2 separate regions of the Homo sapiens genome follow, and region 2 is linked to region 1. The links come from fine-mapping of genetic effects on gene expression. Tissue or cell type: whole blood. Region 1 holds a variant in brackets; the other region holds the start of a gene. All regions are shown on one strand. Distances are between the middles of the regions. Region 1 holds the start of LOC124902081 (small nucleolar RNA U13). Region 2 holds the start of LINC01151 (long intergenic non-protein coding RNA 1151).

Region 1 (16,562 bases):
AAATCGAGCCAGTTCCTGATGGTCCCACAGTCTTCTCAAGCAGAAATTATTATTTTTCTCCCCTAACCCTTAAGCCTTGGGGTATGGAGGTGGGGCAGTGATACACTTTGGGTGTTGTTCCCACCCAAATCCCATATTGAAATGCTATCCCCAATGTTGGAGATGGGACCTGGTGGGAGGTGATTGGATCATGGAGGTGGGTTTCTCATGAATGGGTTAGCACCCTCCCTTTGACACTGCCCTTGTGATAGTGAGTGGATTCTCAGGAGATCTGGTCATTTTAAAGTGTGTGGCACCTCCCCCCTCACTCTTATGCTCCTGCTCTGGTCATCTCATGTGCCTGCTCCTGCTTCACCTTCCACCATGAGTAAAAGCTCCCTGAGGCCTCCCTAGAAGCTGAGCAGATGTCAGCATCATGCTTCCCGTACAGCCTGCAGAACTGTGAGCCACTTAAACCTCTTTTCTTTATAAATTACACAGTCTCAGATATTTCTTTAGAGCAATGAGAGAATAAACTAATACAGGCAGGTGTCCTCTTTGCTCCTCATTGTTTCTTCCAACCTATTTTTCCTCCTTGCTCCATCAAAAACAAAAGCAAACAAAACCCTCACCTCCTTTGAAGTCTACTTTACCCAGTTTTATCATCACTTCCTCTCATCTTCTCATCTTCTCATGCCCCTCTTCATAATTCACTGATGACTTCGGTGCCTGGCTGCTGGTCCACCACTTCACAACCCCCCTTATCATTCCCAGTGAGTTTAAAATCACATAAATGACACAGCCAACACACCTGTTTTTCAATTCCTTGGCTCCTTAACTCCAGCCATTTTTTTCTTCCACCCCATCCCAGCCAACTGTTCATGTGAAATAAATAAATGGTGGGAGAAACTCATTTAAAAATGAATTAAACAGCCAGGCATGGTGGCTCACACCAAATCTCAGCACTTTGGGAAACTGAGGCAGGTGGATCACCTAAGGCTGGGAGTTTGAGACCACCCTGGCCAACATGGCAAAACCTCATCTCTACTAAAAATACAAAAATTAGAATGATGATTTCCAATTTCATCCATGTCCCTACAAAGGACATGAACTCATCATTTTTTATGGCTACATAGTATTCCATGGTGTATATGTGCCACATTTTCTTAATCCAGTCTATCATTGTTGGACATTTGGGTTGGTTCCAAGTCTTTGCTATTGTGAATAATGCCGCAAGATCAAAAAACCAAACACTGCATATTCTCACTCATAGGTGGGAACTGAACAATGAGATCACATGGACACAGGAAGGGGAATATCACACTCTGGGGACTGTGGTGGGGTGGGGGGAGCGGGGAGGGATAGCATTGGGAGATATACCTAATGCTAGATGACGAGTTAGTGGGTGCAGCGCAGCAGCATGGCACATGTATACATATGTAACTAACCTGCACAATGTGCACATGTACCCTAAAACTTAAAGTATAATAAAAAAAAAATACAAAAATTAGCTAGGTGTGGTGGCACATGCCTCTAATCCCAGCTACTTAGGAGGCTGAGGCACAAGAATGGCTTGAACCCAGGAGGCAGAGGTTGCAGTGAGCCAAGATCATGCCACTGCACTCCAGCCTGGGCAATAGAAAGAGACTCTGTCTCAAAAAAAAAAAAAGAAAAGAAAAGGAAGAAAGAAAAGTAAAAGAAAGAAAGAAAGAAAGAAAGAAAGAAAGAAAGAAAGAAAGAAAGAAAGAAAGAAAGAATCAATATGAAGAGATGAAGCCTTTGCTTAAGTGAAGTTAGTGCACAGAAGTGAGGCAGAAGCAGAGTCAGGAAGACCTCTCAGAGGAGGCACCACTGAGGAGAATTTTTACATATAAGCCGGAGTTAGAGAGAGGTGTATGAAGGAAGGGGATTTTATTTGGAGATAGTAGATATGTAAAGACACAAAGCTGGAATGAATTATGGCAAGAGGTTTATTTGATTACAGTGGAAACTTCAAGGAAGGGAGCACTGAGAAAAGAGGCTTGGAGAAGCTGGCAGGGACTAGATAATCATAGGCCTTGAATGCCAAGCCAAAGAATTTGGATGCTAGTCTGAAAATATTTGGAGCCACAAAGGTTTATTTTGGGTAGATAGTTTCCAACAATGGTCACCAGTGATTCCTTCCCTCCCTGTACACATATGATGCTCTACCTATCAAGACGTAGGATCCCTTTCCATTCCCCTTGGACCTTGCCTAGCCTTGTGACTTGCCTTGTCCTGTACAGTATGACAGAAATGACACAGTGCCATTTCTGGAGTGAAACTTGAAGATATCAGGCAGCTTGCTATAAAGCAGCTCAGATTCCTGAATGATGTGATACCATGTTGGGAGAAATGCCATGTAAAGGAGAAGTGAGGTGTGAGACATGTGTGTGAGGTCTTCCTGAACCTTTCAGCCCAGCCAAGCTGCCAGATGGATACAGCTGGATGAGTGACTCCTAGCGTATACCAAGCAGAACAGAAGAACTGCCCAGCTGAGACCTGCCTGCATTCTTGACCCACTGAATCATAAGCAATGGTGAATCATTGTTGCTTTCTGGATGATTTGTTATATAGTAGCAATAGACAACTGAAACACATTTCATTTTATCTTCAAAATAGTACAAGGATATAGTATTCCCTCCATTTAGATATGATGAAAATGAGGCTCAGCAAATCACAGAGCAATAAAGGATTCTAAGAGGCATTCAAGATTGAACTCAACCTTTACCAACTGTAGAACCCATGCTCTTTTCACTAGACATAGGGAATAAGCCTAGTATTTAGCTAAAATTTTGGATACAGTCAGCCTCTATTCTGATTGATCTGGAGTTCCTTCCAATTACTCAAGCCCTTTTCTTTACTTGTTATTAAATATTTGGAATACTGCGATTGCCTGGGAGCACAGGATTATGAGACAAGAACCATAACCATCTTTGAAAGATGTTGGAAGTCTTTCCAGTTTATAGAAAATATCCCCCAAGTCTTGTTTTCCTGGCCTTACCAACCTGGCTTATTTTGGATACAATCAGTACCTGAGGGTGAGGCTCAGAAGTGCCATCTGGTCCTCCCATGTCTCCATGGCATATCTCATACACAGCCAGAAATGGCTGTCAGCAGGAATGCCCTACAGGCCAAACAAAAATGCACCCAGTAATAGATGCATGTTTATTTTCTTTTCCATTTCCCACCTTTCTCTCACTTTATTTCAGAGCTTTTGCTGTCTGTTTTACTACTTGGGAAAGCCCCTTGGAGTATCATTCTGAAGTAAAATTACTTCATTTAATCCAATGTATTGCTCTTGGAAAAAGGTTTTATTTCCCGTACTTGAAGCTGGGCAGTAAACAATAAGCTTCTATTTTTCCTAATCCTAATTTCCAACCTTTTCTTGTGTCTTCATAGTTAAGGGAGCTAACAAATTTGTACCATGCCCCATCATTGAAGGAGACTTTGCCTAGAGCCTGGATGGAAAAACAGATATTTCTGTTCAAATTTTACTCAACACACTCCCAGAAGAAAAGGCAGTGAACCAGTTATGCTCAGGTAGTTGCCTTCACGTTTGTAGGGAGTTGTTCTTCCAGGTTGAGTGGTTCCAAGAATGAGGTACAAATTCTTCAGTTCTACAACATTTTCAGTGACTGCATCCTGCACACGAGAACTTTCTATGCAGCTTAGCAAAACAAGGTAGGCATTGACTTTGGAATCAGAAGAACATTCGGGCTCTTCTCAACCCATTTCAATCAGACTTTTACCCCCACCATGTAACAAAGTCACCAATGGCCTGTCAAGGTCACTAGTGCCTGCATCTGACCAAGTCCAACAATGGATTTTAATCCTCATCTTACTTAATAGCAGCAACTGACACTGTTGATCCTTCTTTTCATGAAACACTTTTTTTTTACTGGGTTTCTAGGCAGTCCCACATTCTTTTTTCCCCTCTTCCCAATCTGTCTCTTCCATCTCTCCCTCTCTGGATTCCCCTCTTCCTCCTGACCTATATAGACTGACAGACCCCAGGCTCACTTTCAGCCTTCTTGTTTCCTCTCTCTGCTCTCATTCTCCATGTGATCTCATCCAGTCCATGGCTTCAAAGTCAGTCTACATGCTGAGGACTCCCACATTTTATCTTTAAATCCATTGTTTCCCTTATTAGAAATGTCCAAAATGGAATTCCTAATTTTTCCCCTTAACCCTGCACCTCCCTCAGACTTCTACAACTCAGCAAGTGGTACAAATCCTTCACCAAGGTGTTCAGACCAAAACCCTGGAGTCCGTCTTAACTCTTCCGTTTCTCATACCCCACATTTATTCAAGCAGCAAGTCCTTTTACCACCTCAACTGTTTCCACTCTAGACCAAGCCAGCTTCATTATTTTTTATTGAGACAAGGTCTTACTCTGTCACCCAGGCTAGAGTGCAGTGGTAAGATCACAGCTCACTGCAGCCTTGAGCTCCTGGGTTCAAGTGATGCTCCTGCCTCAGCCCCGCAAGTAGCTGGGACTACAGGTGTATGCCACCATGCCTGGCTAATTTTTTTTTTATTTTTTGTAGAGACAGGGTTTCACCATGTTGCCCAGGCTGGTCTTGAACTCCTAAGCTCAAGTGATCCACCTGCCTTGGCCTCCCAAAGTGCTAAGATTACAGGCATGAGCCACTGCACCCAGCCACTGGCTTCATTTTTGCCTTATTATTGCAATAACCTCCTGTGGTTTCCAATAATTTGCTTCTCCTTCCCCACCCCACTGATACTAGGCTTACACTCATGACTTGCTTTGGTCAGTGAAATGTGATGGAAATGATGTTTGTCACTTCCAGGCAGAAGAGTTCAGAAGCAGAATGTGATTCACTGTGATCTTTTTTTGTCTCTTCCATGAGACCATCAATAGCTCCAGAGGGAGCTGCTTTATCAGCTTGGGTCCTAGAGTGAAGATAATGTGGAACAGACCTGCAAAACATGGAACATTGTTCCTTTGGAATTACTCAGCCCATCCCAATGAATACACCTACCCACTTGGCTTTTTACTTCCATGTCACCGCCCTCCCTAACATCCACCCAGTAAATTCTCGACATAGTATTCAGAGGGATATTTTGCAAGGGTAAATTAGATCATGTCATTTCCCCACTCCAAGTCCTCCAAAGACTTCCACTTAACTTAGAATAAGATCCAGTTTTCTCATCTTGTCTATAAACCCCTTTATGGCTCAGTTCTAGCTCACCACTCTGACCACATCTCTTATTTCCTTCCTCTCTCTCTTTTCTGACATGGAGAAGTCCACACTGGCTTTCTCTCTGTTTCTTGAATATACCAACCTCATTCCAACATCAGGGATCTTGCATTTGCTGAACCCTCTGACTGGGATGTTTGTCCTCCAGATACTTGCATGGCTGACTCCCTCGCTTCCAGCAGACACCTGCTCAAATGTTGCCCATCTGAGAAGATTTCCTGCATATCTGGTTTAAAATAGTCCATTCCCTCTTCCCACCTGGCCACCTGCTACCTCCTTCCTCAGCTTTATTTTACTTAATAGCACCTATCACTACCAATTAATATATTTTACAATTTTTTTTTATTTGTTGTTCGTCTCTCCTTCTAGAACATAAATTTCACAAGGACAGGAACTTTTTCTTACTTACTATTAAAATTCACAGAACTCTTAACACTGCCAGGTACATGGTAGACTTCAAAAAATTATATTTGTTTTGAATGAATGAATGAAGAAATGATGCCTGAGATTTTCACACTTACTGTCTGTGCGAATATGGGCAAATTATTTTAATTTTTGAGTTCAGTTTCCTTGTCTGTGAAATGGAGACAGCAGTCCCTGAATTTTCTACTTTCCTGGGTTATCGTGAGGACCAAAGCAGATTGCGACTGCAAGTATGCCTTCCAAACAACAAAGAACTATGGAAATATTACATAGGATTATTGATACATTAGCCTATTTCAGACACCAGGCAAATTTTTGGCCAAACTCTGAGAGAGAAAACTGTGTCTCCGATGGACTTTACCTCATTTTTCTATTACCATTTCCCCAAAATGTGGTATATGCTTTTCTCCTCTTGAATCCAGGCACTTCCTCTTATTTGTAGAATAGGAAGAGTAATACAAACCTGGGTTATCTCCAAATCTGCCACAGCTGACCTTGGAGAAGTTCCTTAACCTTCTGAGGCTCAGATTCTTTATCCATTAAATAGTGAGTATGAAGAACTGATTTCGTAAAGCTATTATGAGGCTGTAATGAGTCATGCATATGAAGAACTTTGAAGATTGAGTGGGATATAGTAATCTTGTAATAAGTGTTAGTTATTGTTATTCACTTAACTATTGACTGCCTGTGCAAATGATACTTCATACATTTTTGTATGTGAATCAGATGAGGGAAGGTATGCCCATTACTTAGAATGGTGCTGGAAGCCTCACAGGTGCTTAATAAATAATTGCCATTATAAGTAGTAGCGGTGGTGGTGGTCGTGGTAGCAGTAGTTCAGAGCAGTTGTGAATTTCAACAAAATTGTTTTAATGGTCCATGGTCTCTTGATATAATTTTGTTCTTCTCCTTTTCCAGCATTGTGGTGCTAATTAGGAGACTTTTATATAAACCTTTTCCCTAACCATTTCAGCAAGTCACAATTCATTACACCCAAAAGCATCAGTCCAAATTCTAACATAATAAACCCCATGGCTACAGGCCCTACCCCACCCCACCCCCTGAAAAAGAGATCAATGATCTGTGGGTGTTGGTTGCAATGTAAAAGTCAAAACCTGACTACAGTTAAGTTTGTAGGGGCCCTGGCACTGCTACCTGCCTAGGAATTGATGACCTACGGTTTTCAACCTCTCCTAGAAATATGAACTGGGTTCTTGGCATAGAGTCTCCACAAAATCACCAGTGCAGTACTTCCTAAATACAGATATCCCTCATTCTCTTTCTCTAAGTATGAAATGGAATCCAAACTTTGGTCAAGCTTTCAAAAGACATCCTTCTCACTAATTCTTCCCTAGGATCTCTGCTTTAATCTAAGAGAATGATAGGCAGCCATGCCAACTTCCTACATCTATTATCAATTCCGAAAAAGCTGTTCCCATTTCCTTTGAGCCACATGCTAAAACATCTTCTCACCCTCACCATAAAATCGTTCAATGCTGTAAGAGGATATTATAGACTTCCACTTAAAAGTGGTGGATGGAACATAAACATTATTTCTGCTCCCTCCCAGAAATTCCAATAAATATTACAGCAAAGGAATTTTTTTTTTTTTTGAGATGGAGTCTCACTCTGTCACCCAGGCTGGAGGGCACTGGCCTGATCTCAGCTCACTGCAACCTCCACCTCCTGGGTTCAAGCGATTCTCCCGCCTCAGCTTCTCAAGTAGCGGAGATTACAGGCACCCGCCATCATGCCTAGCTAATTTTTGTATTTTTAGAAGAGATGGGGTTTCCCTATGTTGACCAGGCTGTTCTCGAACTCCTGACTTCAGGTGATGCACCCTCCTTGGCCTCCCAAAGTGCTGGGATTACAGGTGTGAGCCACTGTGCCCGGCTGGAAAATTTTTTTTAAGCATTAAACCTCAATGAAAAAGATAACCAGAAAGAACATAAACAAATAAAATCTGGGGCTCTAGGAAGCAGATGAACCAGTGATAACTCACTTAACAGACCTAAGGAAGTTGAACCCCAAGCTAACAATAAGAACAAGCCCGATTTTCACTGCAGAATCCCAGGGTACCACTGGACATAGGTGGGAAGTTGAGTCTGTTGACACAATGACTGGCTGGAAGTATGTTTAAGAAGTAGATAGACCCTCCCCAGGCCCCTCATCCTGCCCCTTCCCCAACCCAGACAACTGAAGGCTTAATTCCTGGAAAGAATAAAGCATAGTGGGGCATATACAGCATTGTTGAGGGCAGGGACAGTGTACTGAACACAGGAAGATTGAGTGAGAGGTTACACACTGAGTATGAGGACCTTAGCTCTCAGAGCATAAGAAGCCAGACTTAACACTCTGCTTGCCAGAGACTGAAGCACACCTCTCTAGGAAGTCTATCTACTCCAAGAAAAGATATAGCAGCACTAACAACAGAATACCCCTGGAGAAGCAGATTGGCCAAATCACCTTACAAGTAGTGAGTTCAGAGTTAACAAGTTCCACCCCCACACACTGAGTTTCTAATTTGCTTTTAAGCGTCTCATTTCAAAATGTGAGCCTTAGTCAATGACCACCAAAACTCTGAGGAAATTCCCTAACTTGAAAAATACAATTGACTCTCCAAAAACTTAACTACTAATAGCCTACTCTTGACTGGAAGACTTACCAATAACATAAACAATCACTAAACACTTTTTTATCATATATGTATTATATATTGTATTCTTACAATAAAGTAAGCTAGAGAAAAGAAAATCTTATGAAGAAAATCATAAGGAGGAAAAAAATATGTATTTTTTATTGAGTGGAAGTGGATCGTCACAAAGGTCCTTACCTTAGTCATCTTCACGTTGAATAGGCTAAGGAAAAGAAGCAAGAGGAAGGGTTGGTCTTGCTGTCTCAGGGTGCAGAAGCAGAAGATAATCCACATATTAGCAGACTCAGGCAGTTCAAATTCATGTTATTCAAGGGCCAACTGTAAAGGCCAAAATATTATGGGGGAAAAAAAAGCAACTTATAGAAAACTCTGCAGGAAAATAAAAACTTCAAAAGGAAACTATCATCAACATCCTCAGACAAATAGGAGAAGTTATTGTAATTTATTAAATAAAAACAATATTCTGGCAAAAGGAAAACAATTGTAAAACAAGATAGTAATTATAAATTCAAATTTGACAGCCAGAATGAAAATTTCAGTCAAATAGTTAGAAGATAAATTTAGGGAAATCTCTTAGAAAGTAGAATGAAAAATCAAAAAGATGGAAGATATGATATAAAAGATAAGAAATATAGAAAATCATTCTAGGAGTTCATCAACTGAGTAACTAAAATTTCAGAAAAAGAACTTGAAAAATAGAAGAAAAAAGACACAAGAAATAATCCAAGAAATTTATCAGTACTGAAGGGCATGAGTTTCTAGACTTAAAAGGTACAGTAAATATTCAGTACAATAGATAAAAATAAACTCACACTAAGTTCCATCATCTTAAACTTTCAGAACAATAGACATAAAAGAGGGAATTTTAAAACTTTTCAGAAAAAGGTAAAAATCATTGCTCAAAATACCAAAATGACTGTGAATTTCTCAACAGCCCCAGTAGAAGCAAAAAGATAATGTAACAATGACTTTAGAATTCTGTAGAAAAAAATTATTTCTAGCCTAGAATTCTACACCTATCAAAGTTAACAATTAAATATTTGGGTGGGATACAAACATTTCAGACATAAGTCTCAAAACAATTACCTGCCGTGAGCCCATACTGGAGATCCTTTTGTAGTTCATAAGCATGATGATCGGGTGTTCATGTCCGAGCATGAGATGTGCCTCCCTCAAACCTTGTTGTGACGTTGGCACATTTCCCATCTGATGTGAAAAAGGAAAAAAAAAAAAAAGAAGAAGAAGCTACTAGGTAAGTCCAAAATTATGAGGCAAAGCAAGAAAGAGGAAGACATGGAGTCTGGGAAATGAGAACGTCAATCCAAGAAAGAGCAAAGGAAATCCCAGAGATAAAGGCAAAGGGAGATCCAAGTATAGCCATGTACTCAGCCTAGAAATAAACTAGTCCAGGCTGGAGCAGCTCTGTAGGGTACAGGAAAGATGATCGAAAGATGGCTTTGTTAGAATACCGGATGTGAGTGAGTGTATTGAGAGGAAATTTAAACAACCGAGGAGAAAGTTTGGAGTGAATTAGTGATAGAAAACAAAACAAAGGAAGAAAAAACAATATAACTATTAACTCCAGGAAAACCTAAAGATTGTGCAAGAAAATAAAAGTAAGCACATTTCAGCTGTGAAGAGTATTTATAGGGACAGGAAAATATACACACTGAATATTAACCTAAGCAAAATTATGAAATAACAGTAGTGGGATAATGAGAGCATGGGGGTCCGGGGGTTCAGGAACCGTGCATGATGGGGCATGGTAGAAATGGTAAAAGAGGGCTAAAATAGTGAGAGGCTAACAGTTAATGCTTAAAGCATTAGGCAAAAAAGAAGGAGCACTATAAGCATATACCAGTGACATGGAGGC[G/A]ATACCAAAATAACCAGCTGCAAGAGCTGAATGTGTTGATTCTAGGAAGCAGGAAATGCTGGGTCAAGAGAAGAGTCTATTATTTTTCACTATGCCTTCTAAAATTATTTAACCCTGAAAATCATGTGTGTGTATAAAGTTAATCAAAATTAAAACTAAATTTTAAAATAATCATGCATCAATGATAAATTAAAAGGATGATTTTAATTTGGCTTCTCTTTGTCATGTGCACACATAGACACACGGAGCCATTTGGGCAATACATTTTGCAAAGCATCTAAATGCATGAAAATATTCCAGGAAAGTGTTAATGATGGCCTAGGCCAATCTGTCTTTTGTAAATAATTTCTCAGGCAAGTATACTAATTAGAGCTAAGATAGGCAAATGATACAACAACCCACCAATCAAGAGCATTTGCTGCTCGTCTATTGAACACATAGCAATAAATATTCAACATTCTGTGGGGTAAACAACCAAGTGTAAGATATGGTTTCTGGCATTATGGATTTTATGATCCAATTAAAGACATGAAACATAAACTTTTGTAAAGTTAAATGACAGTACAAAATGTATAAATAAGGTTTTATTTAAAAAGTAAAAGATGTTGCAAGATAATACATGACTTTTGCTAAGTCGATGCCGCAGACTACAGAAGTGTTATTGTTTAGAACAAAGAAAAGTCAGGATGCAGGGAAGGGATCTCAGAGAAAAGAGATTAGAAATAGGTCTTGAAAAAATGGGCTGGATTTGAATGAATGGAGGAATAGGGGAATTCCAAAGGCGGATCCAGGAAAGGAAGATGTCGTCTTGGCACCGTGAAGAGATTACAGGTTTCAGAGCCTAGGCGTTTGAGTGACAGCCTGCTCACCAGAACGGGACAGCAATTAGCCTTTGGCCTGAGGAAAGCAACTTGTTCAGAATAAAGTATTTTTATCACCCACAGTGAGGCCAAGAATCCAGTCAGATGTCCTGTTGGGATGTGAATCTGTCATTTTATGAGCTCAAAAAACCCCAGGAATGGCTTCGAATCCATGTTACAGGTCCGAGTTCCCTGGAAACAGCAATTGCCTCTTAGCAAAATCATTAATTAGGGCATTGCCTTAATTCCATTGTGAATAATAAAAATATGTGCACAGACTTCTGTACTTTGATGAAAGCATCAGGGTGTGATTTATGGGGGAAGATGCTCTCCGGGGAATATAAATATGTAAGCCTTACATACTTATAAAGTTCAAGCACATTACCTCTTCAACGGCTTTCAAAACTAAAGTGACCTCAGTTCAGTCAAATAAATAGGACAGACATGTAAATTAGCAAAAGAAGTGCTCTGACATTTATGCAAGGCTTATATCCCACGATGAACAATATCTAGATCAGTGGGAAGTCGGAAGCATTCTATATGTAGCTATCGCCAGACAAATCTAAACACTTGGTAGGCACTCAAAAAAAACTTACTGATTTTAAGTAATTAAAGGGGATCTGGTGGGCAGATACAAAAAGACAGAAGTCGCATCATGAGGCAAGGTTGCGACCGGAGTCTTTCTAGCCAGTTCCAGAAGAGCAGGTGGTTATATCCACCAGTGCCCAGAAGAGGGCAGCCAAGAGCTGCTCAACTGGAACCTTCCTGGGAAGGACACCCACTTGGCACCAGCCAGGGTAAACTGTCCTCTCCCCGGCACACAGAACAGAATCAGCCCAGAACTGATTGGTGAAGAAGTTTGGGGAGAAAAAAAGCAGGGGTGGGAAACATGGACTAAAGGTGTTCAAGACAGATGAAGAACCAGACCAAGAAGAATCATGGAGAAGCCAGAGAATGGAAAAGAAAGACAGCAGCCAGAGGTCAAAGGAACAAGGCACAGGAGTGCAGCAGCCCTGACCTTGCCACTCCCCTGCTCAAAAGAGTTCAATGGCTCCCTACTGTCCATCACACAAACTTCGTAGCCTGACATTCAGGGTCCCACTCTAATCTAACCCTAACCCACCTTAAGAATCTTGGGATTTGCTAGGTTTTTAATCATACACTCAAGATTCCAAGCAAACCAAAGTCTTTCTTGTGACTTTCTTCCTCAGTGTCTTTGTTCCTCCTGTCCCTTCACTCACTGCTCTAAACAATGAGTGGCTGCCACATACTAGTAATGAGAGGAAGGGATACAGGATCAACCAGAAGAAGTGCCCACCTTCAAAGCTGCCAGGAAGAGACAGTGCCATGTACTACCATGAGGGAAGCAAGAGTGGATGGGGTGGAGAGATAAGTGGCTAAGTCAGGCTGTCCGAAAAGGCTTCTTGGAGGAGGTGACCATCCCCCTGAAATCACCTTGCCTTTCCTCTCCACTCATCTAAACCTTCAGCGCCTGCTGAAGGACCATCTGTTGTTTTCATCTGCCTGCCTGCCTATTCCCACTCCTGGTAAAATATTCCATCTCCTCCTTTAGGAAACTGCTCCCTACCCCATCTGCCAGGTAGGCTGATCTGGTAATGTGGTTGATCATATTACCCCATCCTCTGATCCACAGAGGTTGGTTCAAGGAAGATCCTTCAAGACAGACTAATCAGATGTCTTCCCTGGAGTTTTCCCCTCCATTTTGGAATTGAAGGAATAGCTAGCTTTCTCTTTCCCCTGGATTGGAAGCTGACAAGATAGATACCAGAGCTGCTGATGCCATGTCCCTTGCCTCATGGAGGATTCTGAGAGAATAAACTGGAAAGAGATGGAGAAAATTGACACTATACAAATGCCAGAATTCAGTTGCCCTGAATTAGGGCAAGGCCTCTGCTCCACTGTGAGCAGCAAAAGCCCAATTCCAGAGCTCAGCCAAAGGAGTTTGTTTTTCTTGGGTAGCAGATGTTTAAAAGGCCAGTGGACAAGCTCTGCTGCTCTGGCTTCATGATGACATCAAAGACCGTTTTCCTCCGCCATCCCCATCACATGAATCTCCTCATGCTCCAAAATGATTGCTACATCTCTGGGGTTATATCCACATTCCACACTGGAAGGGCAGAAAGCATGTGCCCATTGAGGGTATCCCTTTTCATCAGAAAAATAATATATTCCCAGAAAACCCAACCTGTATCCTTCTGCTTACATCTCAGTGTTCAGAAGTGTCACATGGCCACCCCTCACTGCAAGGAAGTCCAAACAGCTGAGTATTTTTAACTGGCATACTGAGACAACAGAGGAAATACACATTGTGTAAGTAACTGGTGGTATCTGCTCAAGTCCTAAATGTCTTTGTTTGCCTGCATAAACCCATAAATTCTCCTTTTTTGCTTAAGCTAGCTGGAGATGGGTGTTTGTAACTTTCAATCAAAAAGCCATGGCTAAGACACCTGCCAAATGCCACCACCACCATAGAGCCTCCCTGATCTCACTACATCAGAATAATCTTGATGTCTTCAACTTCCAACAGGTCCTTTTCCCACCAGCAACCTGAGGAAGGGAAATCACAGGGACAGGGCGATCGCACCTAGGCAGCCAAACCCCACCCCAGCAGCCAAAGCAGGCAGAAGAACCCTGCCAGCAGGATTGCTGGAATCTAGCTCTCTTCTCTCTCTCGCTTCACCTGCGAAGGGCCACAAAAGAGCTGTTTCAAAGCCATCAGCATCATGAACCCAGCCACTGCTATTGACCCCATATGCTGAACCCAGCAATAAATACTATCCAGGGCTTGTTGCTGGCAAGAAAGGGGGAGAGAGCAACAGCCCTGATTTGCCACTAAAACACTTAAACATAATAGGATACATCTACAGGATGAAGCACTAGAAAGGAATAAAAAGAGAATGAGGAAGCTCTGGATGCATTAATGTGAAACACTTCTAAAACCGTTACTAAGAGGAAAAAAGCTAATTGCAAAATGGTGCCCGTATATATATGAGATATATAGATAGGATATATATATACACATATAAAATAATCATTTGTGATAAAAGAAAGAAAAATAGTATCTGCACCAATATTTGTACCTGCAGAAAATATCTCTAGAAGGATATACAATGCAAGAGACTGGTACTTTTGGCTGCCTATAGGGTGAAGAACAGGAAGGCTACAAAATAGGAGGGCAATGTTTCTCCGTACGCTCTTTAAACCTTTTGAATTTTGGACCTAGGAGTGAACCACCTATTTGAAAAAGAATGAAAATATGTTTCTGTAAGTAAACACATTACAGTTTGTGCTGGTATGTCTGGTATGTTTTGTTTAGTTAAGGCAAAACAATAGGAAGGATGAAATTGGCAAACTGGGCTGGGAAGAGAAAAGGAAGACAGAAAAATTAGCATCCATTTAACAATAAAATAGAAATAGCATTTTGGGTGAAGGGATGCTTTTCTCATATCTTGCTTCAAGCATTTACAGACATCATTCATCCTGTCTTTTCTACAAGCTGTGGAAAAATTGATTCAATTCCTTCCAGCTTAGAGCAGAGGAAAGGCCTAAAGAGCTGAGTCTCTGACACCGCCGCATTTCCCCAACCTGGCCAGGCCACCCCATCCTTGCTCAGTCTGTTTCCTGTGTCTGGAATCGCTCCCCTTTCTACTCTCTCCATTCCAAGGAGCCGCTCCAACACCTACACGGCTTCTCCATTGAAAATAGCTGTTCCAATAGACCAGGCATTGGCCTTTTCTGAAAAGAGTCAGGTGGTAAATAGTTTAGGCTTTTTTTTCATGGCTGTTCTGTCTCTGTCATAACCAGCCAACTCTGCTGTTGTAGCATGAAAGCAGTGATAGATAATACATAAACAAATGGGCATGGCTGTATTCCAATAAAACTTTATTTACAAAAACAAACAGGCTGTAATCCAGGCCACTGACAACACCAAATGCTGGCAGGGATGTGGAGCAACAGGAACTCTCATTCATGGCTGGTTGAAATGCAACATGGTACAGCCACTTTGGAAGACAGCTTGGCCGTTTCTTACAACACTAAACATACTCTTGCCATATGATCCAGCAATTGCTCTCTTTGGTATTTACCCAAAACCGTTGAAAAATTATGTCCACACAAAAACCTGCACATGGATGTTTAGAGCAGCTTTATTCATAATTGCCAACACTTGGAAGCAACCAAGATGCCCTTCAGTAGGTGAATGAATAAATAAACTGGTCTATCCAGACAATGGAATAGTATTTAGCACTAAAAAGAAATGAGCTATCAAACCATGAAAAGACGCGGAGGAAACATAAATGCATATTACAAAATAAAGAAGCCAGTGTGAAAAGACTACATACTGTATGATTCCAGCTACATGACCCTCAAGAAAAGGCAAAACTATGGAGACAGTAAAAAGATCAGTGGTTGCCAGGGGTTGGTGGGGGAGAAAGGGGTGAAGAGGCAGAGTACACAGGATTTTTAGGGCAGTGAAACCACTCTGATGAAACCACAATGGTGGATACGCATCAGTATACATTTGTCCAAACCCATAGAATGTACACCATGAATGATCCAGAATGTAAACTATAGACTCCATGAGTGATAATGATGTGCCAATCATCAGCTGTAACAAATGTGGCTATTGGTGGGTGAAGTTGATAATGGGGGAGGCTGTGCATGTGTCAGGGCAAGGAATAAATGGGAAATCTCCCATTTATTTATGTTCCTCTGGCTCCCAGGAGGGGGAGCAGCTGTTCCCTCCGTCCGCTCAAGGGGCCTCCGCACGCTGCAGGCATTCTCTGGGGTCCCTGGACCTAGGAGACTCTCCCCAGAGTACCAGTCCTCCCAGTCTCCCCGGCAAAATCAGTGCTGCCCAAACCTCCCACTCAGTGTTGCTGTGAACCTAAAACTCCTCTAAAAATAAAGTCTATTAAACAAACAAACAAACAAACAAATAGGTGGTGGCCATATTTGGCCTGTGGGCCATTGTTTGCTGACCCTTCCTTTGGACTCCAGGGAAATTTGCCATCAGTGACCATCATTCTCTGCATTACTTTATAGTAGGTGGATTTGTTGCCATTTCTTGCCCTCAGATGCAAACACTTTGAAGATAAAAACTGTCTCTTCTTATCCCATCCACTAGCCTGAATGTTGGTTGGATTAAATTGGCCTAAAGTGATGTAACCCAGCTGCCAAAGACAGAACACAGCTCATAGCTTTCTCTTTCCTGGGGCATGTCTGTTGCATCAAACACCAGCCCTTTCACCACTTGCCCGCCATAGGCCCTGAAAAACAATGTCCCTGCCTGCCCTACTACCCTGGGCACCCTGTTTCCAGAAGCTTCCAGATGAGCACAGTCGGAGAGCCTTCTCTAAGTGTTTGGTAGAGGGTGTAGATTAAATAACTTTTAAAGCAAAATTCAAAAACAACAGCATTCAAAAGCACCAAATTCCAAAGCAGCATCGCTCCACCAGGCTGCCACATCTCCTTTTCTCACACATGGCCCTACTGGTTTGCAGTTTAAT
Region 2 (16,562 bases), 22 kb after region 1:
AACAAGCTTAACAAGACAGTGGGAGACCAAAAATACGATTCGTTTCTGTTGCATCCTACAAGTCCCTGCTTGTTCAATATGATGGTGTAATATATACACAATTTCCAAAATTGGGATCATATGCTACATGGTATTCAAATCTTTTTTTTTCTCAAAGAATAATATATCATGAAGTTTTTCCCTTGGAAGAAAATATTCATCTACAAGTCGAACATACCACCATCTGGACATGCTGTAATTTATTTGCCCAATATCGTATTCAATGTTTGCTCTTGCAAATCACACTAAAATCAAATATCCTATGCATAACTCTTTGTTTGATTTGACATATTTGATTCCTTCCTAAGGATAAATTCCAAGAAGTGGAATTGCTAGACTAATGGGTAGAAACCTTTTTAAGGCTTTTTATCTCTATCATCAAAGAGGCGCAGGATCTCGAAACACGTTTTCACTAAGTAGGACTGAGTTGTCCAGAAAAAGCCTGAAGAGGCTGGATACATCCTGCAGTCTGTGTAGCCCCACTCAGGTAGGCAGGGAAGTACGACGGTGACTATCGAGGTTATTCCACAGCTATGTAAGGGTAGCGAGAATCGCACCTGACCAAGCCCACACTGTTTTTGCTACTATAAGACACACATACAGAATTCAAGTGATATTCACGAGAATAACACTTGTGTCGACGCATCTTTTCCTGACTCGCTCAAGGGGTTAATTTCTGGGGGAGGCAGCATGGAGAGTATGGTCAAGAGCACGAATCCTGGAGTCAGACAGCTTGGCCTTAGCTCCACCGTGGACTAAACATGTTACTGGAGCAAGTTACTTCTCTCTGTCCTGAGCTTCCTCATTCATAAACCTTCCAAATTCAATTAATTCCTGAAAATGCCTAACCAAGTGCCTGGAATTCAGTACATGCTCAATAAGTGGTGTCATTAGTTGTCATTTTCTGGTCTTATCAGAAGAACTGAAGCCAGATCAGCTAAATCTGTGGTTCTCAGTTGGGAGTGATTTTGCCACACGGGGTATATTTGGCAATGTCTAGAGACATTTTTGATTGTCACAGCATGGGAGGGAGGAGGTGCCGCTGGTATCTAGTGGGTGGAGGCCGGGGACACTTCTTAACTTCCATGCACCAGAGAGACCCCCACAGCACAATGTCAGTAGTGCTGAGTTTGAGAGTCCCTGAGCTAAACCATCCCTGGTGCTCACCTGAGTGCCAGCTCTCACATGCACATGAGCACTGCATTTCTCTTTTGTGCAATGACATTTCTGTGTGGCATTTCCCTCCCACTATCTCTGGGGTCACCTGGTATACTGAACAGGCAGGACTGGCCACATCTCCTGTCTAGCACTCACAGTATGAGAGAATAGAGAGGAATCTAGTTACCAGGGGCATTCACAGGCTTCTGCTACAATGATGCTGTATAGCAATTACAAATCTCTGAGGCGCACAAAATAAGCATTTATTTGTTGCTCATAGCTTTGAGAGGTGGTTTGGACAGTTTGGCTTCAGGTGATGGGTCAAGTTCAGATCTGCCCCACCTTCATGTTCAGAATGCATCTCATTCTGGAACCCAGGCTGAAAAAGACCCCAAGACTGTGGGTTCTTCCCATGGCAAAAGTCCCAGAAGGGCAAGAAGAAACAGCAGTGCCTCCTGAGGCTCAGAACTGGCACAGACCCTTCAGCCATGTTCCATTAGCCACAACCCATTTGTGGCCCCTGTTACCTACAGGATAACATGCACATGCCTTAGGCTGCACTCAATCCTTTATTAAAATCAAGTAGACTATAAATACATACGCTTTTTTTTCTTTTTGTCTGTAGCAGAACATAAAAAGCAGAACAAAAAAGCCTCATTGTTCATCTCTGTCAAGTTCTGGCCAGTGATCAATAAGCAGAGATATTGTATGGAACATGCTGAATGGCATTGTCTCAGGGACAGGACAGGTCTTCTTCCATTTCTCCTTCCTGCTGCCTGGGATCCAGATGTAGTGGCAGGAATTTTAGCAGCCATTTTGGACCTTGAGGATGGAAAGTACACATGGTGGAGCAGAAAGCGTAAGGTTCTTGGATCTCTGATAATGCATGGAGCTGCCTTAGCAGCCCTGTACTTACTACCCATCTCCAAAATATTTTATATGAGACAACAGACTCTTGTATGTTTAAGGCTTTGGAGTCGAACCTCTCATTTATAAACAAACTTGATTTTAAAACATACCTCAAGGATTCCCTGAGTTCACTGGCTGAACACACCTTCATTTCAGTGTGTTATACATTCACTTCCCTATCAGCAATGCTGATGTTCCCTACCCAGCCTAAAAGGACAGAATAAAAAGCCTCTCACATCCAGGTCAGTCTTTGCATTATGGCTGCCAGTCTCTTTCTTCCGAAAACTTGGGGGGTGGGGGAGGGAGAGATAAAGTTTTACCACCAAAGAAGTCACTAACGAAGTGCCAGGAAATTTTTATACATTCGATTACCAATCACCAGTAACAGGTGAATTCTATCATTTTTCTTCTGGGCAATATTAATGTTTTGCACTTTGAAACCAAAGTCCTTGAGCACAGCTGTTATCCTCCACTGCCTCTGGAAACTCCTCTCCGGTTCACACGGAAGGCTACCCTTTACCTCCCACTCCCTCCCAAACCTTAGTGCTCACAGCCATCCTTTGTCCATTTCTGTCTATTTGATATATGCCAGTTCCTCTGGCTGCTGTCCAACTGCAGGGCTTCTGAGCTTAGCGTGAAAGCCCCCAAATGATCCTGCCCCACCCTCTCTACCAGAGTCCATGCATCAAGTCCTTTAATCAGTTACTGTAATTCCCCTTATCTACACCTGCCTCACACTAATCCAGTATCTCGGTGGAACAATGAGGCTTCCAAATAGAGGTAATTTCTTCCACTGCCCATTCTCTGCATGGCCAGTGAACTGACAGAGTCATAAAACAGGGCAGAGGTCGCAGAGTGCCTCCAGGGCAGTGATTTCCAGAGTGTTTTTATTTTAAACCTGGAACTCTTTGTTCACATGAAATCTTAGGTAAAGCCAAATATGCAAAGCGGTTAAAGACAGAGCCCTCCAAATGGAAGGGAGATGGTGGGAGCAAGTTTGGAGGGGACCCAGCCCCACTGCCGCCCCTCAGCAGTTTTGAAGGGAACCCACAGAAACCCAAGTCTCTGAGTGGATGAATGCTCTTCCTTCTTCCCTCTACTTAAACGCTCCTCCCCCAGGGGTTTGCTCTGATCATTTCCTCATTCCAATCAAGTCTCTAGACAATGTCACCTTCCCTGGCCACTTATCTAAAGTAGCCCCCACTCCACATCACTCTCTATTCTTGCAGGCTGCATTAGTCTTGTGTCAGCTTGAGAATGGAATAAGAAATGTAAACCTTGCTGGGTGCAGTGGCTCACACCTGTAATCTCAGCACTTTGGGAGGCCAAGGCGGGCAGATCACCTGACATCAGGAGTTCGAGACCAGCCTGGTCAACATGGTGAAACCCTGTCTCTATTAAAAACACAAAAAATTAGCCAGGCATGGTGGCAGGTGCCTGTAGTCCCAGCTACTTGGGAGGCTGAGGCAGGAGAATCTCTTGAACCCAGGAGGCAGAGGCTTCAGTGAACCGAGATCATGACACTGCACTCCAGCCTGGGTGGCAGAGTGAAACTCCATCTCAAAAAAAAAAAAAGAAAAATGTAAACTTTTATTAGAGGAAACACATATGAGAAAATGAAGGGAGTGAACTGGGACTGGTTGGGAGAGCTGTCAAACTGCAGTGAAGATCTGCCTGTAAGTGAAGGAGAGAGGGAAGGAAAGGAGGGTGGGAGAGAGGAAGGATTTCAGACTAGAATACACTTCTACAAAAATTCCAGCAAGCCCTTCAGAGAGTACTCAAGCCAAAGTTTCCCATCAAGAAATCCCAAGTCTGCCTCAGTGTCCCTGCCACACTGGGACATTGAGGGGAAGCAGTCCCAGTGCAAACACAGTGGTGCATTCCCAAATGCAGCTGCCGAGGTTCTCAGTCACTTTCACACTCTGCACCATGAGATCCCAGAGGCTCATTCTCATGGCCACCAAAATTTTCCTTTATAGTGCTTTCACTATCTGACATTATATTTAGTATTTATTTGTTTGTTATTGTCCCCAAGCTAAAATGTAAACTCCATGCTGACAGGGGTGTGCCTGGCTTGTTCCCTACAGTATCCTCAGCTCCTAGAACAATATCTGGCAAATAAAAAGCAAATATCTGTTGGATGAATGGGCAGGTAGAGGGATGTTTTATGGGCTGCAAAGGAGTTATAACATGAAGAAAATAGTGTAAAGATCTCAGAGTTGTATTGTTAATCAAAAAGAAAAACGACAGCATCTTTTCATCTTGGGAAACATCTTGGAGAAAGAACAGACTGCGGTTGAGACAGCTTCAGGAACGCCGCTGCCTCGGGGAAGAGACAGGATTCACAAAAGTGAGGGCAATTCAGCCAAGAGCTTGAGTATATCAGGTTGTTGGTTGGTCAGGGTTGCAATTCATCCAGGCTGAGAGACTAAAATTTACTTTCCTGAAGCTAAAGGGAAGCCAGTGGCCATGAAAAACTGAAAATACAATATAATCTCCTCCTCTTTAGAAAACAGAGACAGAGACAGAGAGAGACTGGCCTTCTCTTGCATGTGATCATTAGTGATCTAGGTGTGATGCTATCCCCATAACATCCTTCACCCCGCCCCGCACAAACCCTCCACCCTGAGAGCACTGTTCTTTCAAACTCTGAGATCTAGATCATGTGAAGATCTGATTCCACTACCTAAATTTCAGAGTCAGAAGATCTGAGAAGACTCAGACTTATGTTAACAAGTGTGTAGAAACGTGAAAGAGGAATGTCTTCTCTGTGAGTCAATATTGGAAACTCAAGTGATTTTTTTCCCCTTTATTAAGAACAAAAGAGGTCAGGCGCAGTGACTCATGCCTGTAATCCCAGCATTTGGGGAGGCCAAGGTGGGAGAAGCTAAGAATTTGAGACCAGCCTGAGCAACAGAGTGAGACCCACCCCCCATCTCCAAAAAAAATTTTTTTTTAATTAGCTGGGTGTGGTGGTGCACACCTGTAGTCCCAGCTACTCTGGAGGCTGAGGTGGGAGGACCGCTTGAGCCAGGAGGTGAAGGCTGCAGTGAGCCATGTTAGCACCACTGCACTCTACCCTGGATGACAGAGCAAGACCCTGTCTCAAAAAAAAAAAAGAACAAAAGAGCCCAAATGCCATATAAGAATGTCTGCTCTTAGTTTACAGAGCTTTCCAAAATACAAAGGCTTCCTTTGGTATGAAAAATTCAACAAATTTGTGTAACAAACCATAAAATTAAATGTATATACTTGAAGGACTGGGACTGCCAAATAGATTCTTCAAAATGGCTTTGCCTTTTTGATTTGCTGCACCATTTTTAGCCAAAACTGGTGCAGTGCTCTAAATATCCCAACAAAATTGGAATCTCAAGACCTCCAAAAGGCTAATGGTGACCTCCAACTTTTAATAAAAGAGCTGAGGACCAAGGGAAGACCAAGGGGTTTGATGGATTCAAGATCATAAAAGCAGCATTAATTGTCTGACCCAGGGGAGGAGGTCAGAAAAGGGGCTGCAAGGATCACACCAAGAAAGGAGACAGGCCCAGCATGGATGAGGGGGACTGTAAGCACCTCATCATCCCTTGCGTTCTCTAACCAATGCACCACACTTTTATCTGACATACACGCTGGGCTTGGTAGTAAGCTTTCACATAAAGAAAAGTCTGAGTAAACAATTTGAGTAGCACTAGTCGATTCCACTGAGATGATGTAATACTTGTATCAGATTCTTCATTCCCATAAATCCTGGGGTGTTAGTCATATAACATTGCCTGACATATTTTCCACTCCCCAACACTCAGGGGCTATCTCCAAAATGGGACAGATGTTATCTGGCACTCACCCTTTACTGGAGCTCTCAGTGGAAAAATTATGCAAAAAAAAAGTATTTCCGTGAACATTTACTGACTTCTGACTCTATGCTAGACCAGAGATTATAAGATCATCTATCCCCACAAATAACTTACAGAATAATAGAAGAGAAAGTGCACAGGCAATGTGAACATTGCTGAATGCTGAATCATTTAGAATGTGTTTGCCTGCAAGTAAGAGAATACCGCCCCCTCTCCCCGCCCACACACACACACAAAATGTGACTTAGGCATCAGGGGTTATTACTATATCTCACATATCCAAAAATCTGGGGGAGAATGTTCCCAGGTTGGTTCGGCAGTTCAGGAATGGCAGGGATCCAGTTCACCACCTCTATGATTCTCTTGGCTTTCCCCTCATAGCTTCAAGGTGGCTGCTGTAGCTCCAACCATCACATCCTCACAAAACTACGTCTAATGGCAGACATGAAAAAGATCACTCCTTTGTAGTCATGGAGGAAACTTCCCCAAGAATTCCTTGGCAGATTTCCCATCTTATCTCTTTGAGAAGAATTAAATTACATCCCCAGACTTTAGCTATAAGGCAGGTTGGGAAAGAGAATATCAGGTGTTTTCAGCTTCGGTTGAGAGAGGCAAATTCTGCCAGCAAGTAAGCAGGAGGAGGAATGGTTGTAGGTGAGTAATCAACATGGTCTGCCGTATATGTCAGGGGCAATGACAGAGAGGCATAAAGCAGGCCATGAGAGCATGGAGGAGGGGCACCTGTCTCATCAAGAGGACACTTCCTGGAGCTGGTGACACCTGAGATGAATATTAAAGAACAAATAGGATTTAGTGAGATGAAGATCATGATAGAAAGGATGGAGTGGGCCAAGGTCCCAGGTAAAGGGCCAACATGAGCAAAAGCATAGGACTGTAACAGAACACGATGTGGGCACCAACTTAGTGTCACTACAGCATCTAATGACAGGAAACGAATATTGTGAAGTGTCAGAGGCCTGGTCACAAAGGCCTCCAGGGCTGTCTACCGGAGCTTAAACTTGCAACATAAGCCAAAGCTTGCAAACTTGGAGGCTGGAGGCCAAATCCAACCTCCAGACATGTTCTGATTGGCAGGCACTTGGGGTTTGCATTCTGAGTATGAATGACTGGAGGCAGGGCATACTCCAGGGCTGAACACTTGGTCTCCCCCTTTCTATTATCTTACACCTGGACTGTTTCCCTCAGTTATGCCATCAGCCTGCTCCCTTAAGGCTTTTGAGTTCACGCTCCTGAATAGGCTCCGGAGAGCCATTGAAAGATCTTACACAGAGCAATGGCACTACCTGTTCTGTATCTCATATCATTCCTTCTGGCAGCATCGGGTTGGAGTTATGAGATTGGAAATAGGAAGACTGAGTAGAGGTATCTTTTTCAGGACTGTTGGTTGCAAGTGTCAGAAATCTTACTCAAACCTGCTTAAATTATTTAAAAAGATATGTTAGTTCCATAACTTTAGAGTCCAGGATAAGTTTAAGCCTCAAATATGGCTAGATCCAGGGGTAACATGATGACAATATGTCTCTCCATCCTGCTTTCCCATGTTTTGACTTTGTTCTCAGCCAGGCTCTCTGCTAATGGAGAACATGGTCCCTGGCAGCCCCAGACTACTGTGATCCTAAAAGTCAACTGTTGCCAAGAAAGAAGAATGTCTTTCCTGATAATTCTGACAAAAGTCCCAGGTTAAATGAGATGGCATGTGGAAGAATAAATAAATTAATAAATAAATAAATAAACAAAAGTCTCATGGAAGACTCTGATTGGCCTGGCTAGGTCATGTGACCATTCATAAGCTAAAACACAATGCTCATATAAGGAGAATGTATGGAACAGGACAAACAATCACCAGAGGATGGAACTCCAAGGATGTGAAAGGCTGAACAAAGGAAGAGAAATCTACGAAGAAAGGGTGGTCAGAGAATTAGGAATAGAATCAGAATCAAATGATATCCCAGACACAAGGAAAGAAATATTTAACACAAGTGGGCAACTCTTTCAAATTCAACTAAAGTATATTTCTTAAGTTTTTTATAAAAAACTGTGATGTATTGGATTGGTAAAATGTTAGAATTACTTTTGGTGGAGTTGTGGGCACTTGGGGCAGGTTGAGGAGTTGGCAATGGATTGAGGCATGCATAGAAAAAGTAGAAACAAAATTATAGATGACCTAAGAAATTTGGTTGAAAGAAACAGAAATAGAGAGGTTATAGAGAAAGAAACAGGATCAAGGTAAGATATTTTTGGTTGTAAAGTGTTTGAATTAGCAGGTGGGAAGGAAGCCTGAAAATAAAGAAAAGGGAGTTACTTTTTAATTTTTTTATTATTTATTTAATTTTTTAGAGACAGGGTCTTGCTCTGTCACCCAGGCTGGAGTGCAGTGATGCAATCAAAGCTCACTACAGCCCCAACTTCCCAGGCTCAAGCAATCCTCTACCTCAGCCTCTAAAGTAGCTGGGACCACAGGTGTGCACTACCACACCCAGCTAATTTTTTTTTTTAAGAGATGAGGTCTCACTATGTTGCCCAAGCTGGTCTCAAATTCCTGGGCTCAAGTGATCCTCCTGCCTCAGCCTCCCAAAGTGCTGGGACTACGTGAGCCACCACACTTGGTCAACTATTTAAAAAGAAAGATTGAATTACAAATAAATATAACTACTAGAAGCATCAAGTCAAGATACATGGCAGTTGAAAATTTCTGAGGATTGTCTAAATTCCCGTTTATGATGTCTTTCACCTTTATGGTGATGGAAGAAATAGGAAGCCCTGCTAGCATCTGCTACAGCTGTTCATTCATTCATTCATTGATTCACTCAACAAATGATTATGAAGCCACCACCTGGCCAGGCACCAGTCCAGGTGTTAGTGATCCAGCAGTGAACAAAATTGACAAAAACCTGCTTCCATGGGTAATAAATGCCCCCTGACACTCGATTCCTGGCTCTCCCACCTTCCTACAGACCTGATCCATGCACTTGGCTTCCAGCTCTTTCTGGGCCCTACAGGCAGATGTACCCAGGATACCAGGTGCCATCTCTGGCAGCTGAAAGTTTGGTTCTCTGGATTGTTCCAAACTTCATTGCTTTTGCAAGCTGCTTACTCACCACCCGACAAAGGGTGAATAGTGAATACAGTCACATCTTTCTACGCTCACCATCTTTCTTCCCTTTTAGAACCTAGAGGAGGATAGAAAATAACAAAATTTTCCCCACCTGAAGCTGCCAGTAGAATTCCCAAAATAAGATTAACTTCTCTAGATGACTCACCTAAAAATCTCGCCACACTTCTCTTGTGCTGCTGAGAAAACAACCAAAAGTAGCTATTATGCTGGAATGTAGGTGAAGATCAAAAGTGGACATCAAACTTGCCAGAAGCAGAGAGCAGGAAGACTTGAAAATAGAGATTCTGGACTCAGACTACCCAGGTTCCAATCCTGGTGTCCTCACTTACCAGCTTTCAACACCGAAAAGGAGACGCAGATGGAAATCCACCCTGCCCAAGAAGCAGCTTCCCACTGGAAAATGGTAATAAGAGTAATAATAGCAGGTGCATCAAATAGCTGTGAAAATGAGATGCAGTCATTCATTAAAGTGCTCAGCAAGGGGACCACGTGGGCGGAGGGCTGAGGTGAGGGTGCATTGCCATGTGGAAGTTGGGTACTACAGCCAGAATGCAAAAGGATAAATCCAGTGTTCACTAAATAATACTGATAAATTTTCTTACCTAATACACTCTCCTTCTGACCCACTCAGCCTGAACATAGAGAGGCAGGAAGGTAAGATTTCCCTGTCCACTTCAGAAACTGAGGTTAGTACAATTAGTTCTTCATTCTTCATGTCTGAGGCCCATTGGCTTCAAGAAAATCTATCTTTCTCTTAAAAACAACTCACTGTAACCATTAGGTCAAAATTACAGCTAAAGATCGAGTTTCTGCAAAATGTCAAATAAAATGTCTTACCATTTGTGACAAACAGCTGTTGCCTTCTTCTCCACGATGGAATCAAAGGATCTTATCACCTTAAAGGAAAACGACTAAAGCAGAATTATTTTCCTTTTAATCTTTTTTCCCCTCCATGGAAATTTACATAAGAAGGAGCTGTAATCCATTCCTTTCTGTGTGTCAGAAAATCTCCACTCTTGTGGTCTCCATGGCAGCAACTCCCAACCTGAGACAGAGGCTGTTTCACCCCACAGAGTGCATTGGACTTTTATCTGGTGAGTGCAATCAATGTAGACAAGCACATTGGATGACTCAAACTTGGGATTATTTCTGATTTTGAATTCCGTGTGTGTTTTGGCTCTCTGTGTTGGTCAACAGTGCCAGATGAATTCAAGTCTGCCTGTTACTTTATGTTGTGGTGAAATGGCCTGATAAGCCCCCTGGCGTTTTGAATGCTGGCTCTCGCTCTACACCGATGATGAAGCATTTTCCAGGTTTCTAAGGGGGTGATGCAACTGACTCACTTTCCGGGTCAGTGGGGACTTGCCCTCAAGCTGTTCTGGCAGCGGTGGGCCACTCTTTCTCAGCTTATCTTTTTGTGATGTCCTGAAACACACTCACCTGTGGCCACTGAATAGCGTTAAGCCCATGGTGGGTGAGCTATTGTGAAGCTGAATTAGCACACCCAAATGGGATTTAAACCCATGATCTGCCCTCGTGAGTGGGAACCGGTGGAGTGACCGTGTCCGACGCTCTCAAGGCTAGGTCAGGCTTTTCTGAAATGGCCATTTAAAGCCTCCATTTGTTTCATGCTGTGAAAGACTCTGTTTAGAGGGTGAAAAGACAACCTGCAGACTGGGAGAAAATATTTGCAAGCCAATATCTGACAAACATTTTGCATCTTCTAGAATATATAAAGAACTTTCAAAACTCAACAGTAAAAAAAAATTAAACATGGCTGAAAGACATGAACTGATATTTCACCAAAAAGGATAGGCAGATGGCAAATAAGCAAGAAAAGTTGTTCAATATCATTAGTCATTAGGAAACTGCAAATTAAAACCACAAAAATATATGCCTACACACCACTTAGAATAGCTAAAATTTTAAATAGTGATAATATCAAATGCTGGTAAGGATGCAGAGAAACTAGATCTCTTATACATTGCCTGTGGACATGTAAAATGGTACAGCCACCATGGAAAACAGTTTGGCAGTTTCTTACAAAATTAAACACTTACCATATGACCCAACGGTCATACTCCTGGCATTTATCCCAGAGAAATCAAAACTTATATTTACACAAAAACCTGCATATAAATATTCGTAGTGGCTGTATTCATAATGGCAAAATACTCGAGGGAAAAAAAAGCAAATGTCCAATAGGCAAAGGATGGAACAAACTGTGGTACCTCCATACAATGGAATACTACTTAGCAACAAAAGCAAATGAACTCTTGGTACATGCAACAACCTGGATGGACCTCAGGCATTATGCTTAGTGAAAAAAGCCAGTCTCAGAAGGTTACATACCTTTCGGATCTGTTTCCACTTATCCAACATTCTCGAAACGATGACAGAAAGAGCACAGATTAGTGGTTGCCAGGGAGCAGGAGGATGAGGGGGGAGGAATACAAACAGATAGAATGGAATTCTTTTTTTTTTTTTTTTTAAGACACAGTCTCACTCTGTCACCCATGCTGGAGTGTGGTGGCATAGTCTAGGCTCACTGCAACTTCTGCCTCCCCAGTTCAGGCAATTCTCCTACCTCAGTCTCTGGAGTAGCTGGGATTTACAGGTGTGTGCCACCACACCTGGCTAATTTTTGTATTTTTAGTAGAGACGGGGTCTCACCATGTTAGCCAAGCTGGTCTCAAACTCCTGACCTCAAATGGTCCACCCACCTCGGCCTCCCAAAGTGCTGGGATTTTAGGCATGAGCCACCGCGCCCGGCCTGAATGGAATTCTTTTACTGTGATGGAACAGTTCTGTATCTTGATTGGGATGGTGGTTACATGAATCTATACATGGGATAACATTACATACACACAAATGCAAGCTTAAAAAATGCTGAGAACAGAATAAAATCTGCAGTATAGTTCAACACTACCAGTGCCAACTCCCTGGTTTTGCTATTTTACCACAGCTTTATAAGATGTCACTGCTCGGGGAGGCTGAGGGGAGGGTATATGTGACCCTGTACTTATGGCCTCTTTCTGTGAGTCTATAACTATTTAAAAATAAAAAGTTACAGCCGGACGCAGTGGCTCACGCCTGTAATCCCAGCACTTTGGGAGGCCAAGATGGGCAGATCACAAGGTCAAGAGATAGAGACCATCCGGGCCAACATGGTGAAACCCCGTTTCTACCAAAAATACAAAAATTAGCTGGGTGTGGTGGCACGTGCCTGTAGTCCCAGCTACTCAGGAGGCTGAGGCAGGAGAATCGCTTGAACCCGGGAGGTGGAGGTTGCAGTGAGCCGAGATCACGCCACTGCACTCCAGCCTGGCGACAGAGCGAGACTCCGTCTCAAAAAAAAAAAAAAAAAAAGTTACCAAAAGCCTCCTACTCATTATCATCTACTCATTCCTTCATTTATTCCCTTAATTATCCATTTATGATATTAAAGGCTATCCCTCTCAAAAAAAAAAAACTTAAACATTCAGCAGATCTTCCTTGTTTTATTCTCAAAACATTGCTGAGACCTGTCCTAGACCTGCCTGTGAGCCATCTGGACTCTTGTCTAACACTCGGTCTCCAATAGATGCGTCAAGGGTGGGTGTGATTGTTCTCTGTGGGTAGGGCAGTATCAAAAGCATCTTCAAGTCTCTGACCCATCACTCACGAACATATCTGACCCATCACTCTTGACCCATCACTCATGAACATATCCAAATTCTTAAAGGACTTTATATTTTCAAACAGTGCTACTTCTAAAGGTAATAAATTCCATGCTAGGTACTCAGAGTGCTAATTCTAGGACTCTGAGAAGCTGAGGTGGGAGGATTATTTGAGGCCTGGAGTTCAAGATGAGCCTAGCAACATAGTAAGACCCCTGTCTGTACAAAAAAAAAATCATTTTAATTAGCCAAGTGTGATGGTACACACCTGAAGTCCCAGCTACTTGGGAGGCTGAGACGGGAGGATTCCTTGAGCCCAGGAGTTTGAGGTTACAGTGAGTCACGATCATGCCACTGCACTCCAGACTGGGCAACAGAGAAAGACCCTGTCTCAAAAATAAATAGATAAACGAGACAAGCCTGGCCAACATGGTGAAACCCCGTCTCTACTAAAAACACAAAAATTAGCTGGGTGTGGTGGTGCACGCCTATAATCTCAGCTACTCTGGAAGCTGAGGCAGAAGAATCGCTTGAACCGGGGAGTTGAAGGTTGCAGTGAGCCAGAATCGTGCCTGGGCAACAAGAGCGAAATTTTGTCTCCAAAAAATAAATAAATAAATAAAGTATAGTATAGTATAGTATGGTATGGTATAGCATAGCATAGCATAGCATAGCATAGCATAGCATAGCATAGCATAGCATAATACTGGACAATAGAAACTTTTCTGCTCCATTATAATCTTATGAGACCACCGTCGAGATAGGCAATCCATTGTTAACTGAAATGTCATTATGCAGCACATGACTGTATTGTGCTACAATTGCTCTGTCATTCTCTCATATATTTATAGATGTTTTTTCTAATTCATTTGAAAGTCAGCTGCAAAATCCAGCCATGTTTCCCCCAACATTTCACCGTGCATCTTGAATGAATATGGACATTCTCCTAAATAAGCACACCACCATCATACCTAAGAAAGCTAACATTTATTCGGTTAAATGGTGCCATTTAATATGTGACTTACCTGTAAATTTTACCAATTGTCCCCAATATACCTTTTAAAGCTCTTTTTATTAAGTCCAAGACTGTGTCTCTAAAACATAAAAATTAGTTTAAATTTCATGTTTGCCACCATCGTTTAAAGCCACTTACACTTAATATTTGTACAATTTTGACCCTTTTGAAACCCCATGGTTGCCCCTCTTATTTGATTCTATTGAAATTTGGTGAATAAGTTTGTTTACAGGCATCTTTTCTATGCCCTTCATGAATTCATAGCATGTACTTATTTCTTCTTAGAGCTTTGGTCTCTCCATGCTGGAGTCCACCTCCTTTGAGCTCATGCTCAAATGTAGGTTCCTCTTAATAATTTAGTTTGCCTCTTTCTACGTGTCCTTTATAGGTCCTTCCTTAAGCAGTGTAATGACTAAAATTGCATACATCCCTCCAAGTGCCAACCCACATAGGTTTTATACAAGATATACAGAGCCACGCTTTTAGGATTTAGGACCAACGAATGGCTCTTTTACATGTTAACAATTTAGGAGCTATAAATTTTCTTCCAGACTTTTTCCTTGCCTTAAACTTTTTTACCAGTTGAAAGCTGCATAAAATGAACATCAAGGGCAGAACATCAAAGGAACTAAGAGGCTATGTCCAAGAACACCAGACAACAGGGAGAAGTGTTTCCCAGGTGCCCACAGCAGGCTGCAAGAGAGACCATGGAGGGCTGTGGGTGGCAGATATTTACATAATGACATCGACATATTTTAGCTGCCAGCTGTGAGCTGTCTTCATTTCTTCTTTCACTTGCTCCTCAAAGTGTGAGGTCCAGAGTGACCCCGGTTTGTTGACACCCCCCAGGGACAACTCTGAAATGAACTGCAACTTCAGATTTTGTGTCTAATGTTTCTCTGAATAATGAGCAGGATTTTCTTGGCCTGATATGAAACACACTGGGCAAATATTTTTAGCAAGACATCTATAGTGAATATTATGTCTCTTTTTGGATTGGCAACTGAGAGCTAGCATTTCGTTGTTCGATTTACTTGGATTTGTCCCCTTTTCGTGTGTTTTTACACATTTGCCTTTCATGAACTTTCTCTCTCTGTGGTTTATTTACTCAGTTGTTCACTCGTTTGATGTCACTTCTCATGTGCTTATTATGGACAGCCCTTGGGTTATGCTTTGTGGACACATCACAAACATAACTATGACATAGTCCTGGCACTCAAAAAGAGACCTGCATTCTGTTTTTGAAAGAATGCCCAGGCTGAAGCGCAGTGGCATCGTCTTGGTTCACTGCAACATCCGCCTCCTGGATTCAAGCGATTCTTCTGCCTCAGCCTCCTGAGTAGCTGGGATCACAGGCACCCAGCACCATGCCTGGCTAATGTTTGTATTTTTAGTAGAGACAGGGTTTCACCATGTTGGCCAGTCTGGTCTCAAACTCCTGACCTCAGGCAATCCGCCTACCTCGGCTTCCCAAAATGCTGGGATTACAGGCGTGAGCCACCACGCCTGGCCTGAGGCTTGCATTCTTTAAGTGGGGCACATGACCCAGCACATCGCGTACTCGTGGCTACAGTGATTGGCTCACAGATTACACATGGCCAAAAACAGTCATGTCAGAGCCCAAGAAGACTCAAGTAAGCTCCATGATGACAGGAACCTCTTCTCTCTGTCCACTTCAGTATCCCGAGCATGTAGAAGAATGTCTGGTGCATACTAGGACCTCAATAAATATTTTTGCATTAATTAATTCCATGACTTTCGTTTATGTTATTGAGAAACAGGCTACCTCTTTCCTGCTGCACCAGAGAATTCACAAACTGAAGCTGCCATCTCGCTACCAAATGGAGTCTGAGACTGGAGTCAACAGATTGCAAAGCAAGCAGAAAGGAGAGACACGTGATTGCATCATGTGAGCCCTGAATCTTGCTATGCCTGCAGCCAGGGCTGCCTTGGTCTTGTTACATGAGCCGAGTTTGCAGTTTGCTTATGCCACATTTGATCAGGTTTGTTCCTGTTTGCTGACCAAGTCCTAACTAAAAACATTAAAAGAAGTATCCTGCCTACCCTTAAATCAAAGCATTTCAACCCCTTGACAAGGGAAACACATGGCCCAGACACAGACAATCAGAGTTTAATGGGGCTGATTTTCATGATGGTTTGCTCCTGATAGGAAGGAAGAGCAGGCTCAAATAGTGGGGCTGTCCTTAGCCCAGCCTCCAGGGCTGATGGGCTGGGATGAAGTCATGTGGACCAGTAGAAAGAAAGAAAATGTGAGGCCAAAAAATAGGATCTTTGGACTTAGTTTTCTATTTAAGAGCTCCATAGGCTTGAATAAGTCAGTTGACCTCTCTGGACTTCAGTTTCCTCCAGTACAAAATTAATAACTTGGCCTAAGTGATCAGTTCTACAATGGGTGTGACTGCCTATGTCTCTCTATTGGCATGGGGCTCACTGCTGCTGCAGCTGCTGCCATTATAGCTGCCCCTGTGATAACTGTGGTGGGTGCGGTCACAATCCTGGAGGCCAGAGATCCGAGTGTTGGCAGTGTTGGTTTCTCTGAGGCTTCCTTCCTCGGCTGGTAAGATGGCTGTCCTCTCCCTGTGTCTATCCCCGGACTGCTGCAGGGATAGAGAAGGCAGGGGTGATGATAAGGCTTGTGATGGTGGTGGTGGGTCCTGTGGTGCTGGTGAGGTTCCTAATGGGAAGAATTGGGGCAATAGGGGAAGGCTTATAAGAAAAGAATATTCAGACATGGACAGTAACAAAGGAAAGACCATCTGAAGACACAGGGA

The links.
Region 2: LINC01151 starts here. The variant in region 1 is fine-mapped to the expression of LINC01151 in whole blood (TOPMed, PIP 0.99).

What each region holds. Positions count from the first base shown.
Region 1 is chr8:122,661,882-122,678,443 of GRCh38, forward strand. It overlaps LINC01151 (long intergenic non-protein coding RNA 1151), which reads right to left. Exons shown (of 4, transcript NR_126348.1): 3 at 9,388-9,507; 4 at 8,504-8,619. LOC124902081 (small nucleolar RNA U13) reads left to right here and starts at 9,410; the gene lies at 9,410-9,513. RefSeq lists a silencer at 15,609-15,903. The variant G/A (reference allele first, on the strand shown) is at 10,175.
Region 2 is chr8:122,683,948-122,700,509 of GRCh38, forward strand. LINC01151 (long intergenic non-protein coding RNA 1151) reads right to left here and starts at 10,159. Exons shown (of 4, transcript NR_126348.1): 1 at 9,934-10,159; 2 at 9,426-9,534. LOC107986904 (a long non-coding RNA gene) reads right to left here. Exons shown (of 3, transcript XR_001745738.3): 3 at 15,886-16,465. RefSeq lists enhancers at 5,626-6,825, 9,455-10,654, 10,475-10,975.